4 linked regions of the Homo sapiens genome follow. The protein of the gene in region 4 purifies or fractionates together with the protein of the main gene of each other region. This does not show direct contact. Each region holds a gene or a part of one and is shown on either strand. Other genes may lie near its edges. The genes, in order: ANKRD50, MMADHC, PKLR and CIMAP1A.

What was found.
Region 1: the proteins of CIMAP1A (region 4) and ANKRD50 purify together in Homo sapiens (affinity purification with mass spectrometry; one large-scale study listed by BioGRID and IntAct). This does not show direct contact.
Region 2: the proteins of CIMAP1A (region 4) and MMADHC purify together in Homo sapiens (affinity purification with mass spectrometry; one large-scale study listed by BioGRID and IntAct). This does not show direct contact.
Region 3: the proteins of CIMAP1A (region 4) and PKLR purify together in Homo sapiens (affinity purification with mass spectrometry; one large-scale study listed by BioGRID and IntAct). This does not show direct contact.

What each region holds. Positions count from the first base shown.
Region 1 is NC_000004.12:124,663,115-124,668,390, reverse strand, and holds the end of ANKRD50 (ankyrin repeat domain-containing protein 50), read left to right. Parts: intron 1-876; 3' UTR 877-4,343; downstream 4,344-5,276.
Region 2 is NC_000002.12:149,574,010-149,578,600, forward strand, and holds part of MMADHC (cobalamin trafficking protein CblD), read right to left. Parts: intron 2,534-4,591; coding exon 2,428-2,533; intron 1,833-2,427; coding exon 1,702-1,832; intron 1-1,701. UniProt on the Homo sapiens protein: Involved in cobalamin metabolism and trafficking. Plays a role in regulating the biosynthesis and the proportion of two coenzymes, methylcob(III)alamin (MeCbl) and 5'-deoxyadenosylcobalamin (AdoCbl). Promotes oxidation of cob(II)alamin bound to MMACHC.
Region 3 is NC_000001.11:155,287,893-155,291,629, forward strand, and holds the end of PKLR (pyruvate kinase PKLR), read right to left. Parts: intron 2,787-3,737; coding exon 2,680-2,786; 3' UTR 1,401-2,679; downstream 1-1,400. Other genes in the region: HCN3 (potassium/sodium hyperpolarization-activated cyclic nucleotide-gated channel 3), read left to right, coding at 1-571. UniProt on the Homo sapiens protein: Pyruvate kinase that catalyzes the conversion of phosphoenolpyruvate to pyruvate with the synthesis of ATP, and which plays a key role in glycolysis.
Region 4 is NC_000011.10:195,008-200,028, forward strand, and holds the start of CIMAP1A (ciliary microtubule associated protein 1A), read left to right. Parts: upstream 1-1,753; 5' UTR 1,754-2,039; intron 2,040-2,289; 5' UTR 2,290-2,297; coding exon 2,298-2,406; intron 2,407-2,553; coding exon 2,554-2,754; intron 2,755-3,191; coding exon 3,192-3,293; intron 3,294-3,456; coding exon 3,457-3,578; intron 3,579-4,361; coding exon 4,362-4,502; intron 4,503-4,936; coding exon 4,937-5,021. UniProt on the Homo sapiens protein: Outer dense fibers are filamentous structures located on the outside of the axoneme in the midpiece and principal piece of the mammalian sperm tail. May help to maintain the passive elastic structures and elastic recoil of the sperm tail.

The sequences.
Region 1 (5,276 bases), on a different chromosome or scaffold from region 4:
CAAAAACTTAGTAGAAGGTAGTTTTTATGATGACAGATCTCTTGAGACTCTTCTAAGTAATGTTTTCACACATAAGGCATAGACGTGAAAAATGATAAATGGATGTTTTTGCAATATTGGTATTTAGGGCACTTTATACCTGGATAAAATAGTCATATTTGTTAAATAAATTTTTTTTTCTCCTTCCTGTAACAAAGGATACTTCATTAATAATATAGGGGATGTTAGTGGGAAAATAGGTATGTAAGTTTTATATTTTAGATACTTTTTCAGAAGCTCATTTCCTGTATTGGAGATAAATCTGAAGATTTTATTAGGGGTCTTTCCTAGCATACACTGCAGCTATATTTATCCCACTTTGCTTAATGATTTTTCTTCCTCTAACAAAGTTATATATACTCTTTCCTTTTTGCTGCTTCTGTCTTTGTAAATATATTTTAGGGATATAATAGGTGAAACACTATTATAGATAAATTCCTCATATATTCTAATAATAAACAGCCTTCAATGTGAATCTAGGGGTGACCAAATGTCATTCAAAAATAATTTGAATAAAGTACTTAATTCAGTCCCCAAATGCAATTCGTTTTTAAAATAATTAGTTCTGATGGTGCACCCTTTCAACTCTCATGATATCTGTTTTAAAGGCAAAATATAAATACGTATTAAAAATGAAACACCAGAATTAAGGTAAACATTTTGTGGAATTTAAAAAGTGGCTTATAAGTTAAATAATAGTTAAGTCTGCTTTGTGCTTTGCATGGTAAATATATAGATAAAGATATATAGAGGTAAATGTATTAAATAAAGTTTTAAAATGATATGTAGCTGTATAATACAATGTAGAAAATAATTTTTTTTTAACTTTTGCATTAGTTTCCTATTCTGTGAAACAGAAGACATTGTGATGGAGTGGTTCTTCAGCTACTGGATGGAAACATATGCCTGTTGATTTGCTGAAAAAACAAAAAAAATGAAGAATGTGATCTCTGCAGTACAGTTACCTTAATTACTGTAATGTGCCTAAATAGTAAGGCTGCCTTCTCAATGTAACCCTCTGTGCTTAAAAAATTTCATTTTGTGTGCTTTGTATTCACTACACAGGAATAAGCACTTTTTAAAAATGCAGATACATACTGCAGTTCCCTGATAAAAGCTGAAAAGAAAATTTGAGTATTTTAAGTTAAGATGTGATAAAAAATGTGCATGTGCCATAATCAAATATATATGAAAAGGCAGTGTTCCTTGTATTTATTTTTTTTTCTTTTTGTGGCAAAAGAAACTTAAACATACTGTTTCAGTCACATTGCATTGTAGTGTATGGCCTGTTTCTTGTATCTTTAAAGACGTTGCTCAATAAAACAAATCTTGCAACTGTTCTATGTTCACTACACCTTCAGCATTGGATAAAAATCATTTTCTATATAAATATCACATTGAAATGAAAAAATGATTTCTTGGCAGTTTAAAAAAAATATTTTATAGTAGTTTAGGGAGCTGCTTTAAGTAGTTTAAATCTGGATTTTCCCAGTAGAATTCTTCTCATCTCTGGCTAAACATGTCAGAACAAACAACCAACCAGTCTGTAGGCAGAACAAAGTCCTATTTCATCCGCTGGGATACAATTTCATCTTCCATTCACTTTGTCATTCCACCTCTAAGAAGACAGACTATCATTCCTGAGGCATGAAAATTCTCAGGGACAAAGCCATGCCTCAGTCACATGTGTGTGCAGAGAGAAATGCACCTGTCTATCTAAGGGTAGATTTTTGATCCCTGAATAATTCATTGACTAAACTGACCTCTTCCTCCTGGCTAAATAAATTAATTTTGCTGGCTTCTCTCTCAGCGGTTTCTATTTTGTAAATTGCTGCATGACCAAAATAGCCCCACTCAAAATCAATTGGATTAATTTTAATGGTTTGGTTGGATGAATATTCTGGATGAATATAAAATGTGCTGCCCTTCACAGATGACACCACTCCCCTGTCAATCATAGCACATGTGTACTTTTTATTGTTACTTAATAGTGATGGATTTGCACTTTTCTATCCTCATACTCTTTCCTGTTTTCTTCTTTGTACAATTGCATGCAGGAGGGCTGGATGCCAGGGTTAAGAGAGAAATTCATGACAAGGAAGGTAAAATTGGTTCAAATGAGCATGTGTCCCACAGCCTTAGTCTCCTTACTCTTAAATCAGTGGAGCTGTAGCTTAGATGGGTCGTTTATATGTCTGGAAAAGTTGTCATAACAGTTTAGAAGCCAAGGTTGTGGATTTGATCTTAGAATGGGCCTGTTAATCTTATAGAACCCAGAAATTCTGTTCTTTTCATGTACTGTTGATGAGGAATGAGGAAAGAGAATTTGGAGATTCAGCACAAAACCATTGCTACTTCTAGAACAAAATCTTTAGAATATGTCCTAATAACAAAGGTCAGTAATGTCATCTTCATATATGAAGGACACATGTGATACATTGTTCGTGGAAATAGAAATGTATAATTATGATAAATGTTTCACTTGAATCTTATTGTAAGGCTTTTCTTGCTTTTATTTTTTAAAGTCAGCAAAACTCATTTTGTCTGTCATCTATAAGTCATAGTGAGGACTACGAGATAAGTTGATAAGTTCAATTGATATTAAGGTGACATGGCAATATTAATAACTCAAATGTGAATGTTTCAAGTATTGAATTCTTGTCCCTATGGGACATTTATTAAATAAAATTAATGGGACTCTTGCAAAGTAGCCTTAAAAGTGTTAATGAGTCTATTAATAAATATGAACACATACTATTATTAGAACCAACTTTACTCATATCTCAAATACAGTACATTTACATTACTGTAGAGGATGAAGCTCTAATTTCTATTACATGTAATTTTCTTTAGAAAGAGAACCCTGAAAGCTGCCAGTTTTTCTATTAACTTTGAATTATTGAAATTGTATTTATTTAATTTTATTGTTTTTACAAAATTGCACCTTGTGTCCAAAGGGCGAAGATATGACATTGCATAAGGGATTTATGTTTTTCAAAGAGCTAACTGTTTTCATATCCATACTATATACACTTGAAGCAATTGGTAGGAAGAGAACCTATTGGAAAAATACGATTTTCAAAAGTAAGTATTCCTCGGGATGTTTTTATATAAATTATGTTTTGGAATAGAACATAAATGACTTTGAGTTAGGATAAGGATGATAGGATGGGTGCTGGAGATGCCCTGCCTTGCTTATTTGTTTCTGTGGGGGATTTAATACTATAAATGAAAATGGCTTCTGCTCCATTAAAAAGTAAAAATTGTCCTCCAAATATAAAACTCCTTAATAGATATTTTTGAAATTAAAATCTTTAAATTTTATAAATCAGCTGTTGCCACTACACAACTATGATGGCATGTGCTTATAACATTTTTATAACATTCCGTCTGTGTCTATTCCCTAAATATCATGAGTTTATAATAAGGAAAGTGATAAAAATACAGTAATGAAATAAAAATCTGAATGTTTCTAAGAAAGGTTTTGGAAGGAAAAATGACCTGAAATCAGTGCGTACTGCAAAGTACAGCCAATAATTTTTGTTCTTTGTTTTCACCCCCACCCTCACTGGAATTCTCACCAAAAATAGTTTGATACTTAAAAAACAGAAGTAAATACTTTTCTCAATATTGTTTTGGCTATGCAAATATTTGTTTTGCTTAATGTCCTCCATTTACACTTCTCAGCAAATGTAGTTGCAAACAAATGCTTTCTTTTTATTTTTCCCTTGGTTTGAGGTATGTAAATAGCCAAAAATGTACATTGAATTTCACATTGTAAAAGTTTTATTTTATCCCTTGTATGATATTACTCAAAAAATCCCTGTGTATATGAAAGTGCATAATAAATATATTTGCTTTACAGAGAAGATCTTGTTTTAATTTTGTCCTTGAACCAGTAGAACATGCATGATATGCATATAGCATAAACAACTGTTAGTTGTTTTAAGTTATTATCTTAAATAAATCCTGAGCAAATGAATTTGGAAACATTTTGCAAAGAAGAAAGTGAAATATAACACTGTCCAAAGGAAGGTAGAAAAACAAAGATTTACTGTTTATGTCTTCCTAAGCCTTTTTAAAGACTTAATGTTCTTTTCCCCCCCGTGACTGATTATATACTATATCACACCATGTCAGGTTTTGTGCCTCTGAGAATTGCAGTAATCCAATAACTTTTGTATATGTGTGCTCCTTGATCATCAGAATATTATGGCCATCTTATGGCGGATATTTTGGGAGTTTATTGCAAACATGGTCATTCATTTTCTAAATAAAATTTGTGTGTTTCTTCACTCAGTAAACTTGCGTCACTTCTTCATGACCTCTTTCCCCACCAGAACACAGCATACACATGCTGTATGTATACATACACACAAATGGCTTTTTGAATTTGTGGGTTCCACATCCCTGGATGCAACCAATCTCAGATAAAATATTCGGAAAGAAAATTCTAAAGTTCTGAAAAACAAATTTGCTATGTGCCAAGTACTACCTGAGTCCACCTGAATGAAGTGATGTGTAGGCATTGTATTAGGTATTGTAAGTAATCTAGAGATGATTTAAAGTATACAGAGCATATGCGTAGGTTATATATAAATGTTGTGCCATTTCATATAAGGGACAGGAGTGTCTGAGGATTTTGGTATCCAAGAGGAGTCCTGGAAACAATCTCCCTATGTTTACTAATGAATAACTATCCTATTACTCCAAAGAGAGGTTTCTAAAAAGGCCAACAAGGTATCTTCTGTTCTGTAATTTCATGAAAATTGTAGTGTTCTGCAGTTATATTTTTTATAAATTTGTTGAATTAATATAAATCTTATTCTAAAAAATTAATAATATAACAATGTGTTTAAACACAAATGTATGGTATACATAGAAGAATTTAAAAACAGACCGGTAGCTAAATAAACTTACATGGAGTTTTCTAGCTAATGGTCCAAGGAAATACACTGTGAGAACTTGGTGATAATTAATGTTTTCACTCCTTTGCCCTAGCAGTTGGAAGGATTACAACTACAGTCGTCCCACTGTATCCTGGGTGGATTGGTTCCAGGAACCCAGGTGGGTACTAAAATCTTTGTATGCTCAAGTCCCACAGTTGGCCTCCTGTATTTACAGATTCTGCATCTCTCCAATATTGTATTTTCCATCTGTGATTGGGAGAATCTGTAGATGCAGAATCCACAGATAGGAAGGGCTGAATGTAGCAGTGATGAGATACACCCTGAGGA
Region 2 (4,591 bases), on a different chromosome or scaffold from region 4:
TCATGAAGAAATCTTTAAAAAAAAAAATCTTTTTTCACAGAAAATAAAATAGCTTCAGTCATTACAAAATTAAAACTCTCAAGATGAAGCACGTTGCCATTCAAACTGGTTATAGGAAACTTAGAACTATACTGGAGTCAGTATCAAATTAGGTTCAGAATCTTAAACTGACCAAAAATTAGAACCACTAATGCAATATACATGTGACAATATACTAGCACTTCAATGATAGTGATGAGTATATATTTACTAAGCATTATTTTAATATGTAAATAGAAAATATCCTATAACTCTCTATAACTCCCTTGTTAATTAGTATATAACTAATATGCTTGTGATTGTTAAAAACCACACGAAATCTATTAGCAGTTATGTGACATTTAAATGTGAAATTATAATATTGTTGAATATGTAAATTACAATATACTTTTACAAATAAAGACCATACATCTAATCCCAAATATAAAATACTTCCTAACATCCTACACAGGAATCACTAAAGGGATTTTTTAACTCAAGTTAGTGACTTGGGCCCCTTAGCTAACCTGAGTTGGAAAGAACTGCTAACACCCAGGGTAAGCTAGCATGACAGCTTATATACTAGAACAGTCTTTTTGATGGGCAAATTGGAAGTGTCTTATCAAAATTTAAAATGTAGATACACACTGATTCAGCAATTCTCTATTTAGGAATCTATAGATATTAGCATGCATAAAAGTATTTGTAAAAAGACTGTCACTGCTTGTTGCCTATAATAGCAAAAGTTGGATTTTAAACTTATAAATGACTAAGAAACTTCTTTTATAAGAGATGGTAGGTATCACTTTGTCGCTCAGGCTGAAGGGCAGTAGCACCATCAAGGCTCACTACAGCCTCGACCTCTCAGGCTCCAGTGATCCGCCACCTCAGCCTCCAGAGTAGCTGGGACTACAGGTGCGCACCACTAAACCTGGATAATTTTTTTTGTAGAGACAGGGTCTCACTACAGTGCCCAGGTTGGTCTCAAACTCCTGGATTCAAGCAATCCTCCAGCCTCAGCCTCCCAAAGTGTTAGAATTACAGGCGTGAGCCACTGCACCCAGTTAAAATTCTTAAATAAATTAAAAAGTTTATGGTTTACCCTGTGATATTAATACTATGCAGATTTTATAAAGAATGAAATATATCTATGTGTAAGCATGGAAACATGTCAAAGCATACTTTAGGTTAAAAGCAAACCACAGAAAAAAATGTGGGTATACATTATTACACTATTATTGTACTGCATACTGTTACTGTTTACTCTTGGAGAGAACTGGCATAATTTTCACTCTTTATTTTGACATGTTCTAAGCCCAGGAGAAAGGGGATAGATTTGGAGGGGAAGATGGGGAGATGAAGGGGGAGATGGAGAAGGAGAGGGAGGGGGAGGCTGAGGGGAGAAGGATAAAGAGTTAATTTTACCTTTTTGTCATTTACCAAATTTTCCAAAATAGACTTTTTAAAAATAAATTGAGGAAAGTAATAAACAGAATCTAAACTTTTAAGGATACTAAAAAGCTGCACTTTTACTCTCAAAAAAGATGTAAGTCCTTTAGTATTATAATACTTTGGCAGAAAATGAATAAAGGGTGGAAATGACAGTCATCATTTTAAGACATTGGTTCACTATTACTTAAATAATGACCATAAAATTAAATTATTAGCAATTGAAAGAATTACCTTTTCTAAGAGCACTTCTCTTTCAATTTCTACTTCTTCACTCCAAACAGTCATATCATTCTTAGTTTTTTGTGTTACAGTCAGAATCATTAGTTTGCCATTAGCTACTTCTGGAAACAGTGATTCAAAATCTACAAATAAGAATAAACATTCCAGGTAGAAAAGAATTTGATTTTTAAAGAACAAATTTTTAAAGAAGGATAAAAGTACTTCTTTAGAAAAATGCTGATTAAGTAAAATTACTGTGGTATTAGTTAATTTTTATAAATGTATGTTATTTTTGAAAAGGGTAAAATTCACTTAGTTTTGTTTACTTCTGCTTTTGTTGGATGAACTGAAATATTACTACCAACAATCCTGAAGGGTAAGTAGGATTACACGTTATTTGGGGTTAATATAATTTTCAAAAATGCTTACTGTTAAGATTTTTCCGTATTATATTAACTCATAAAATTATAACTCTAATAATCACCCAGGAGTAAAAATGACTTTAATTTAGCCTTAGGAAAAAAGTTATTAAAAATTTTACTCTTCCTATCTAATGGCAGCATGAGGTCAGATGTCACAGGACATTTCAAAGCCTTTATCTTGGCCATGCAATCATTTCCAGCCAGATACGGTAAAATATAATATTAAGGTATACAGCGTTCCAATTTCTATAGAGTACATTATTCAACATATTAAAAAAATTAGTAACAGTGTTTCAAAGTATAAAGCATGACATACCTTTTCGCAGCAATTCTGGACATGTCTGTATTGCACACTCTACTCTGGCACTTTCAAAGTAAGTTTCTGCACTGTTAATTTCTTGTTCAACAGGTGCATCATTACCCTAAGGGGAACAAGGATATAAGTCAACAAAATCTGGAGTTCAAATAAAACGGTATCTTGCCTGTTATAAACCTGTCTTCCTTAGAAAGCTTTTTGTTTGTTTTTACAAAAAATTATAATCTAACTGGGAGGTGAGGTAATAACATTTTCTCATTTACTCAAACTTTTCTCTACAATGAATATAAGATTTGGAAGTTCAAAAAATGTGAATACAGCAGAGCATGAATATATAAATATACTGATATTCTAAAACTTGGTATAAACAGAAATTGGCTAAGTAACTAAAATGCCATAATGTGTCTCATAATGTTACCTCTTCTATTTTATGGTAATATTTAATTATCTTTTCTTCTATAATCTGTAAAAGGGGGATAATGATACTAACTTACAAGATACATGACTAAATAATACAGCCTCTCCTACAGGAAGAGCTTAGAGGCTTTTATTCAACTGAAATTTACTGAGAGCCTACTATACATCAGGCACTATGACAGGAGCAGGCGCTGCAATGGTAAAAAATTCAGTCCTCACTCTCAGCTATTTCAGGCCTAATAAAAAAAAATAAGTACAAGCAAATAAATGCAATTAAATATGACAAGTGCTACAGAGTTATGAATAAAGTCTTCCAGGGGCATAGATGAGGAAGAAACTTACTTTGCTGGGAGGAATCAGGAAATGATTGAAATGGTGATATTTGAGCTACAAGTTAGTTGATGTGTTATGTCTGACAGGTAAAAAATAGCTGGTACAGAGGTTAGGAATTCAGGAGGAAAAATAGTCCAGCAAAAGATAATAAAGTACAAAGACACAGAATGTGTATTCAAGAAAAATGGCAAGTATGTTGTGGCTGGAGTGCAGAGGGAATAGGAAGTAGTGGCAGATAAGGTGGGAAAGGTAAGGGATCAAAATTATGAAATGCCATTTATTCAGCATTAAGAAATTTGGACTTTAGTCTACAGGCAATGAGAAACAGCAATATCAAATACAAAAATTAGCCAGGAATGGTGGCATATGCCTGTAATCCCTGCTCGTTGGGAGGCTGAGGCACGAGAATTGCTTGAATCCAGGAGGCAGAGGTTGCAGTGAGCCAAGATTTGCAGAGCAAAACTCTGTCTCAAAAAAAAAGAAAGAAAAAAAAATATTGTGGGCTAGAGATTATTACTATCCTCATGTGACATTTATAAAGAAACAGGAGTGGTCAGGCACACTGGCTCACGCCTGTAATCCCAGAACTTTGGGAGGCCAAGGCGGCCAGATCACAAGGTCAGGTGATCGAGACCATCCTAGCCAACATGGTGAAACCCCACCTCTACTAAAAATACAAAAATCAGCTGGGTGTGGTGGTGCACGCCTGTAATCTCAGCTACTCGGGAGGCTGAGGCAGGAGAATCACTTAAACTAGGGAGTTGCAGGTTGCAGTGAGCCAAGATCGCACCACTGCACTCTAGCCTGGTGACAGAGCAAGACTTCATCTCAAAACAAACAAACCAAACAACAACAACAACAACAAAGAAACAGGAGCTTAGAAAGGTTAAGTAATTTCCTCGAGGTCACAAAATTAAGTAAGTTGCAGAGTCAATCTTTGAACCCAGATTTATTCTATCTTCATTGTGTGTCATGCTACAATGACTCTAAAAATCCAGGTAAGACAAAGAGGCCTTGAACTCTGGCAAAGAATTGAAAGGACACTAATATTTTAGGAGCAACTTGAGAGATAAAAGCGATGTGATTTTTATATTATTTATAGTGATATGATGGAGAAAGAAGGTTGGTGCTATAAGTTTTATCTTACGAGAGAGGGGAGGATGGTTATTCCACTAATAGTATTGGTTATACAGGAGTTAGGACAGGTTTTTAAGGAAAAAAAGATTACTTCAGTATTAGACACACAAAATCTGGGGACTTGTGAGACATCCAAACAAAGATGGTTCAGTAGGCATATAGAAATATAGAACTGGAAATGTCAGAAATAGAAATACTGAATTAGAAATTATAAAAACATAGACTGTGGAGGCGGCCAAGGGATTAAGTGACCAAGGGGTGATTCAAATGAGAAGGT
Region 3 (3,737 bases), on a different chromosome or scaffold from region 4:
TCGGGGTCGGGCCCCGAGCACAGGAGCTCAGCTTAGTGGAAAGCCAGTACTGTGGGAGCCACTGGTACATGCGCCCCTTCAGGCAGCTGCTGTGACCTCCAATGTGGCCATTGCCCTGACTCATCAGCGGGGCCCTCTGCCCCTCTCCCCTGACTCTCCAGCCACCCTCCTTGCTCGCTCTGCTTGGCGCTCAGCAGGCTCTCCAGCTTCCCCGCTGGTGCCCGTCCGAGCTGGCCCATGGGCATCCACCTCCCGCCTGCCCGCCCCACCTGCCCGAACCCTGCACGCCAGCCTATCCCGGGCAGGGCGCTCCCAGGTCTCCCTGCTGGGTCCCCCTCCAGGAGGAGGTGGACGGCGGCTAGGACCTCGGGGCCGCCCACTCTCAGCCTCCCAACCCTCTCTGCCTCAGCGGGCAACAGGCGATGGCTCTCCTGGGCGTAAGGGATCAGGAAGTGAGCGGCTGCCTCCCTCAGGGCTCCTGGCCAAACCTCCAAGGACAGCCCAGCCCCCCAGGCCACCAGTGCCTGAGCCAGCCACACCCCGGGGTCTCCAGCTTTCTGCCAACATGTAAAACCTTTGAGTACATCCAGCCTTAGTTCTTGGGGTGCAGTAGTATGTACCCAAGGGCAGATGCCTCTTGGGGAAGGCCATGGGGACCTGAAACATTGCCCCATGGAAATGTCGACCCTGTGCGGACATTCCGCATACTGCCATGAAGACGGTCTCTGTGTCCTCAGCTCAAGAATCCTGTAGCTTGTCCCATCATAATCCATTCACCCGTTCATCATGTGTACTGAGCAGCTACCATGTTCAAGGTAATATGCCAGGCGCTGTATGTCTCCACTGCCAAGTAGAAGTGACTCAAAACCCTCTGACAAGGATATTCCCTTGGCTATGGTCCTGCCAGGTGCAGGCCCAGGCCCATGACCCCACCTTTACTAAGCACAAGTACTTGCCACTGCCATCACTGCCAAGTAACTAGATGTCTCTGTTTCCCTGCCAATGATCCTGCAGGTTCTGCCCGGTCTGGTTATCTTCCTGTTCCTGTAGCATAGCCAGGCACTGCCAGTCACCTGTGCCCCCATTGCTGTCAGCAGATGTCTTGGGTCCTGAGTGTGGGTATCCACTTTTACCCGCTCACTGCCACCTGTGGACACTCTGTGTCTACCCTCTGAGTGGGAACATACTTCTAAGTTCCCTGCAGTCTCTGTCCTGTGGTAGACCATCTTTTTGTAAACTGCGAGCTTCCTCTTCCCTGTACCCTCTGCCCCAGTCGTGACCCCCTAAAAGTTAAGGGGTAGTTGGCACCTCCTTATTAATATGCCAGCCTAGATCCCCCCCGGTGGAGGGGCAAATGGCTGAATCCTTGTGTGATATTTTTTTCTTCGCTTGTTTATTTATTCATTTATTTAATTGTATTTATTCATTTACTAACTTTATGTGTTACCAATTAATTTTGTTTACCCATTCCTTTATCCATCCCTCCCCTCCTTTTCAGGTAAGGAGACAGGAGGAGTAGGAGGAGGCAGGGCCTCTCCATGCCAGCCTCTGTGGTCCTTGCCCAAACCCATCAGCGCAATACTTGAACCTTCTCCCAGGTAGGGGCAGGAGGAGCCACATGAGAGAGGGAGAAGGACCGCGTTTACCTTTAGAGTTTTGTTTTGTTTTTTCCTTCTGAGTTTGCTGTTGGTGCAGGAATAAGGGAAAGGCCCAAGGTATCCAAGCCTGGGGAAGGGCAGGCCAGCCAGCACCTCTGCCTTCTCAGGGACAAGAGTAGTCCTTTACCACCCTCACTCTGCCTGTCCCCTCTCCTACTCTACAGCATTAAAGACTGTGGGACCAGGACCCTAAGTCTCCTTTCCTTCTGGGTGGGGAGTTCTGGGGTTCTTGGTGTGTGGGAGAAGTTTTATAATTGCTTCCAAACAGCTGGGTTTAAATATAAAATAGACACACTCATTTTTGGCTCTTGGTTTGTGTGTGGGAACAACATGAGTGGGAAGGAATTTCTGGGTGCAGAAGGAAGCAGCCGGGGATTTGACCAAGCAGGGTATCAGGCAGGCATGAGAGCAGCCAGGACAGTGGTCTACAAGCCCAGCACGGAGGTTGTGAAGACAGTGACAAAATCAGCTGCCCAGCCCTCACTTCTCCCCAGCATCCATCCCACCCAGTTTTCCCAAAAGCGTGGACTTTCATGTAACTGTTAGTCACCATGAAGGGGTAGCCTGCCCTGGCACGAGATGCCCAGATTATCATGAGGGCTACATATGAGAATGGGAGACTGTGGACAAGATTGCCCTGTCTCCCCTCTCCCCCACCCCAAGGGATGGGATGCCTGGGGTTATGGAATTAACCAGCCAAACTGGGATTAAAGACTCAAGGCATCTTAGGGCCTGCTGAGCAGATTGGATGCAGGGAATGTACAATTGGTGCTGTTGGGTGGCCAGTGCATAATTGGACACAGACTTTCAGGACCTGTGTGAAATGGAGATGGGGAAGGGGCAACCTCGAAGGGGCTAGATGACAGTTATAGTCTCAGATAGGCCTCAGGTAGGGAGGGTCAGGAATAGAGAAGAGAGGACTTAAAGGTGGGGCTTTGGAGGGGTGTGGGCTGGAGAACGTAGACTGGGGAGGAAGGGATGGGGTACAAGGGTAGGCTGGGCCAGAGGAGGGAGGGGCGTCTCAGGATATGCTTAGCACCCGCATGATGTTGGTGTAGCCGGAGCCAGGTCGCCAGCCTGTCACCACAATCACCAGGTCTCCAACACGGAGGAAGCCACGGAGCTTTCCTGGGGGAGGGAAAGAAAACAAATCATTGGACAGGTGTGGTGGCTCACACCTGTAATCCCATCACTTTGGGAAGCCAAGGCAGGAGGATCACCTGAGGTCAGGAGTTTGAGACCAGCCTGGCCAACATGGTGAAACCTTGTCTCTACTGAAAATACAAAAATTAGCTGGGTGTGGTGGCGCATGCCTGTAATCCCAGCTACTAGGGAGGCTGAGGCAGGAGAATCGCTTGAACTCAGGAGGTAGAGGTTGCAGTGAGCCGAGATCACACCACTGCACTCCAGCCTGGGGACAGAGCAAGACTCCATCTCAAAATAATAATAATAATAATAATAATAATAATAATAATAATAATAATAATAATAAAAGAAGAAAAGAAAGAAAATTAGTCATTGAGGGACCAGGCCAGCCCTGTAACGAGAACCAGCCACCACCTTTCACCACATCAAGGCCATCCTGTAGGGAATGAGGCAGTGAAGTATGTCCCACGGGTGGCATGCAGGGAATGTGACCACTGCAGTATATTAAAGGTGTAAGAGATGCCAGCACGGTGGCTGACGCCTGTAATCCCAGCACTCTGGGAGTCCGAGGCGGGCGGATCACGTGGTCAAGACATTGAGACCATCCTGGCCAACATGGTGAAACCCTGTCTCTACTAAAAATACAAAAATTATCCAGGCGTGGTGGCGCATGCCTGTAGTCCCAGCTACTCAGGAGGCTGAGGTGGGAGAATCACTTGAACCCAGGAGGCAGAGATTGCAGTGAGCCGAGATCGTACCCCTGCACTCCAGCCTGGCGACAGAGCAAGACTCTCTCTCAAAAAAAAAAAAAGGTGCAGGAGTATCTGTGGGCTAGGGCAGAGTGTGTTGCTAAGTAGCACGGCCGTCTGCCTGTGTGGCTATGCTGATGGAAGAGGTATTTGTGATATGCCAGACTGATATCTCAGTCTTAGT
Region 4 (5,021 bases):
AACACACGTGTGAAAGTCCCCACAGAGGTACACACAGGGTCCACACAGGAGCAGGCACACCACAGGCAAGACCCAAAATGGAAATCCAGGCAGACGCCACGTAGGCAGGTGGACAGAGCACAGAGCCAGACAACACTGCGTGGTCGTCCGGAGGGGGCGTCTGGAGGGGGCGTCCGGAGGGAGACGGGCGGCAGAGGCAGCGGTATGAGGTGGGAGCCCCAGAAAGAGGAAGTGTCCAGGACTGGGTGGACACAGACCCCATGTCGCCCATGGGCTAGGTCAGGGCGGGGGTGCTCAGCATCTGAAAGCTGGTGTCGAGCCCCAAGAGGACCCCTGACAAGGCCAAGAAAAAGGTACACCCATGTCCAAGGGGGTTGGGAGCCGCAGGTGAGCAGCCTCTGAGGTCAGCCAGGGCAGCCCCAGCGCCCACACTGACTCACACCCACCACAACCAGCACAGACCCTGATCCTGACCCTGGATCCCAGACTCTCCCACAGCCAGAACCTTCCAGCATTTCAGCTGCCCAATCTATGGTCTCTTCTGGGGGCACAGCTGAGTGGAACCGCCCCATCCTTGGCCACCCTGGGTGCTGAGCCCTGACACTTCACTGCCCCGGCCCTCCTCTCCACACCTCTGTCCTGTCTGAGCCTGGCAAGGGGGCCATGCGGTGCTGTCGGCTCTGTGCTCTGTCCCACCTGCCTACATGGTATCTGCCTGGATTTCCATTTGGCTGAGGGAGCCCTAGGGAGGGGGCCCTGGAGGACTTGGTTACAGGGGACCTGGTGAGGGGACCCAGTGAGGGGGACTTCATGGGTGGGTGCCTGGTTGAGGGGACCTGGTGAAAGAAACATGGTGAGGGGGCCTGGTGAGGGGTGGTCTGGTGAGGGAACTTAGGGAAACCTGGTGAGGAGGACCTGGTGAGGGGACATGGGGGGGACCTTGGTGAGGGGACCTGGTGAGGGGACATAGGGGGACCTTGGTGAGCGGACCTGGTGAGGGGACATGGGGGGGACCTTGGTGAGGGGACCTGGTGAGGAGGACATGGGGGGGACCTTGGTGAGGGGACCTGGTGAGGGGACATGGGGGGGACCTTGGTGAGGGGACCTGGTGAGGGGACCTGGTGAGGGGACATAGGGGGGGACCTTGGTGAGGGGACCTGGTGAGGGGACATGGGGGGGACCTTGGTGAGGAGGACCTGGTGAGGGGACATGGGGGGGACCTTGGTGAGGGGACCTGGTGAGGGGACATGAGGGGGACCTTGGTGAGGGGACCTGGTGAGGAGGACATGGGGGGGACCTTGGTGAGGGGACCTGGTGAGGGGACATGGGGGGGACCTTGGTGAGGAGGACCTGGTGAGGGGACATGGGGGGGACCTTGGTGAGGGGACCTGGTGAGGGGACATGGGGGGGACCTTGGTGAGGGGACCTGGTGAGGGGACATGGGGGGGACCTTGGTGAGGGGACCTGGTGAGGGGACATGGGGGGGACCTTGGTGAGGGGACCTGGTGAGGGGACCTGGTGAGGAGGACATGGGTGGGGAGCCTTGGTGAGGGGACCTGGTGAGGAGGACCTGGTGAGGGGAACATGGTGAGGGGAACATGGTCAGGGGGACTTATAGGGGTGTCCTGTTGGGGGGACCTGGTGGTGAGATCTGGTGAGGGGATCAAAGGCAGAAGCCATTGTCTTGGTCACATAGACAGAATCTAGAACCTGTCATCCCACAGAGCCACATTCTAGAGTTTAGAGTGGGGGACCTCTCCCCAATTCTGTAAGCCCATGAGGAGAGAGGAAGGCCTTTCTCTCCATGCTCCTTTTGCGGGAACTCCCTGGCACCAAGGCCAGGGGGGAAAGGACAGTCTCTGATGAGGATGGGTCTCTAGGCTGCTCTGAGTGCTGTCCCTGCACTGAAGAAGTTATAGTTCCCTCCCAGGCGGCCCCCTCCCTGCCCCTCAGCTCAGCCTCAATCAAGAAGTTCCCCATCTTTGACCACTCCAAGTAGGAGAAACCGGCCCAGGGCTCCCTTAGAGCCGAGAACAGTGGTGAGTTAAGGGCCAGCATGGACAGCAACTCTGGGTTACAGTTAAGCTGGTGAGGAGCTCACAGACCCATGCAGAAAGCTCCTACTGTCCCTGACTCCTGGCTCCCAGCTGGAGATCCCCACTGATGCTGCAGCAGGTTCCGCAGGTCTTACCCTTCAGTGTCAGCAAGAGCAGGGTCGGGGACATCAGGGGCCGGCATGGGACAGGGCCGGGCCTCCCAGCACCTGGTAACCCTCTCACTTACGGACAGAGCTGGCCATGACGGAGGAGGTATGGATGGGTACCTGGAGGCCCCATCGCCCCCGGGGACCCATCATGGCCCTCTACAGCAGCCCTGGACCCAAGTACCTGATTCCACCAACAACAGGTAAGAGCCTGAGAGACTGTGGGAGAGGGTCAGGAGCCAGGCGGGCAGGTGGGGGTCCCGGGAAGGGCCTGGGGCTCAATCCCTGACTCCCAGCGGGGAGAAGGGCAGGTCAGGCTCCGGGCTGCTCAGGGCCCATTGCGTCCACAGGCTTCATGAAGCACACGCCCACCAAGCTGCGTGCACCGGCCTACAGCTTCCGTGGGGCCCCCATGCTCCTGGCAGAGAACTGCTCCCCAGGGCCCCGTTACAATGTAAACCCCAAGATACTGAGGACTGGCAAGGACCTTGGCCCTGCCTACTCCATCCTGGGGCGCTACCAAACCAAGACCATGCTGACTCCTGGTCCAGGTTAGTGACCCTGTCTCAGGCTCCTGCCCTGCGCAGCCTCAGGCCTGCCCCTCCCTGCTGGGTGCCCCTAACCTCATGTCAGCAAGGGTGTGGGAGAGCTCAGCCATCCTGGCCCCTCCCGTCCCATCTTTCTCTCTTGAGGGGTCACCATCGTGCCTGGGCAGAGAAGACTCTGGCCCAAGAGTCCAGCTCCGACCTGGACCTTTCTCTGCCAGGCCGACGTCAGACCCCACTCTCCCTGCTCAAAAATAGCCTTTGTCTCACCAGCCCTGAAGTCAGCATTTCCATCCTGGACACCCCCTGACCCGACTTGGTCACCACCTGTGTTGGAGCCCAGAGGCCCCACGCCTAGAATGTTGGGGAGTCCTCCTTGAGCCCCCAAACTGGGCTGCATACCCACCTGCTTGTCCCAGCAGCCCCCTTGGCTCCTTGTCCAGGTGACTACTTTCCAGAGAAATCCACCAAGTACGTGTTCGACTCAGCACCCAGCCACTCCATCTCTGCCCGGACAAAGGCATTCCGAGTGGACAGCACCCCAGGTCCGCAGCAGCCCCAACCATCCTCAGCCAAATGGACCTGGGGATCCTGGGTGGGGTGTGTGACATGGGGCAGCCCGACGGCTGATCTCCAGAGTTGGGGGAGAGCCCCAGGGAAGGAGCAGTGGGCCCTGTTCCGGCCTGAGGCTCCACGTCCACCCTGCAGGCCCCGCTGCGTACATGCTGCCCATGGTAATGGGGCCCAATACCGTCGGCAAGGCCTCCCAGCCCTCCTTTTCCATCAAGGGCCGCAGCAAGCTGGGCGGCTTCAGCGACGACCTACACAAGGCAAGGGCCACCCCAACTGAGAACAGAGAATCACCCCCAACCATCTGAACCCTCCCCCGGAACCCAGGACCCACCAGTTCGGCCCTGCCTTGCCAATGCCCCTCAGCCCCCTCAGCCCTTCACCCTCTGGGCACCTGCCACGTGCTGGGGTTACACTGCAGTGGTGAGGAGGGGCAGGCAACAGGCCAGAAGGGAGACGCCCTGGCCCCAGCATGGACCGTGCTGAGGACAAGAGATGGGGTTTAGGAAGCACTGTCTGGAGAGAGAGAGGCAATCTTAGATAGGGTAGCATGGAAAGAAGAGGAGGAGGAAAAAATAAACCATGAGCTATTTGGGGGAGGAGGGTCCTGGTTTCAGAAACAGCCAGTGCAAAGCCCCTGGGTGGCACATGCCTGAGAGCTTGAGGGGCCTGAGATGGGGAAGCAGCATCATGGCACCCAACAGCCCTCGTCCATGTTGATTTTGCCAGCCCCAGGCCCTCAGGTCCAACAGGGCAGCAACAGCCTCTCTCACACACGCTCAGCGATGTTCCCAGGACTGGCACACACTGGGGATGCCATTGCCAGCGTGAGGCTGAAATGGAGGAAGTGACCCCCACATGAGGTACCCCACAAGCAGTGGGGTGTGATCTCCACAGTGTGACAGAAGACAGAAGGGGACCTTGATGCACGGGCACCAACTTGTAGCTGACCCTGTTGACTCAGAGCCTGAGTTTGCTCCCTGTCCTCTAGGGCCACACGCCCTGGGTAGGCCGAGTTGGTCTGAGCCTCCTTTACCTCTCAGACCCCAGGTCCCGCAGCCTACCGCCAAACTGATGTGCGGGTGACCAAGTTCAAGGCTCCGCAGTACACCATGGCTGCCCGTGTGGAGCCCCCAGGGGACAAGACCCTCAAGCCAGGACCAGGCGCCCACAGCCCTGAGAAGGTCCAGGAAGAGCACAGCTCAGAGGGGTCAGGGTGGGGCAGGGTCCTGGCCCAGAGGGATGTGTAGGAAAGAGCAGGGAGGGGGGCTGGGACACAGACGAGGGGAAACAGGGTCAGGCTATGGAAGGACACAGCCAAGAAGGGGTGGAGGGGTGGGGTGGGGATGGGAGGCACCTGCACCCTGAGGACCCTGTACATTTCCAGCACTAGGCCCACAGGTAACCCTTCAGGGACATGGAAGCAGAGACCCTGCCCTTTTCCCTAGACACTGTGACAGCTACTACTGCTGAGTGCTCTGTGTTCAAACCTGGGAGCATAGCTTCTGGCCACCTTGGCCCCAGGTTCAGGAAGGACAGCAGCCCAGCCCCAGCCAGGGCAGAGACCTGCAGGTGGGGGCAGGGGTGCTGGTTCCTATCATAGCCCCTCCTCTCCCAGGTGACCCTGACCAAGCCCTGCGCCCCAGTTGTCACCTTCGGCATCAAACACTCTGATTACATGACTCCCCTGCTGGTTGATGTGG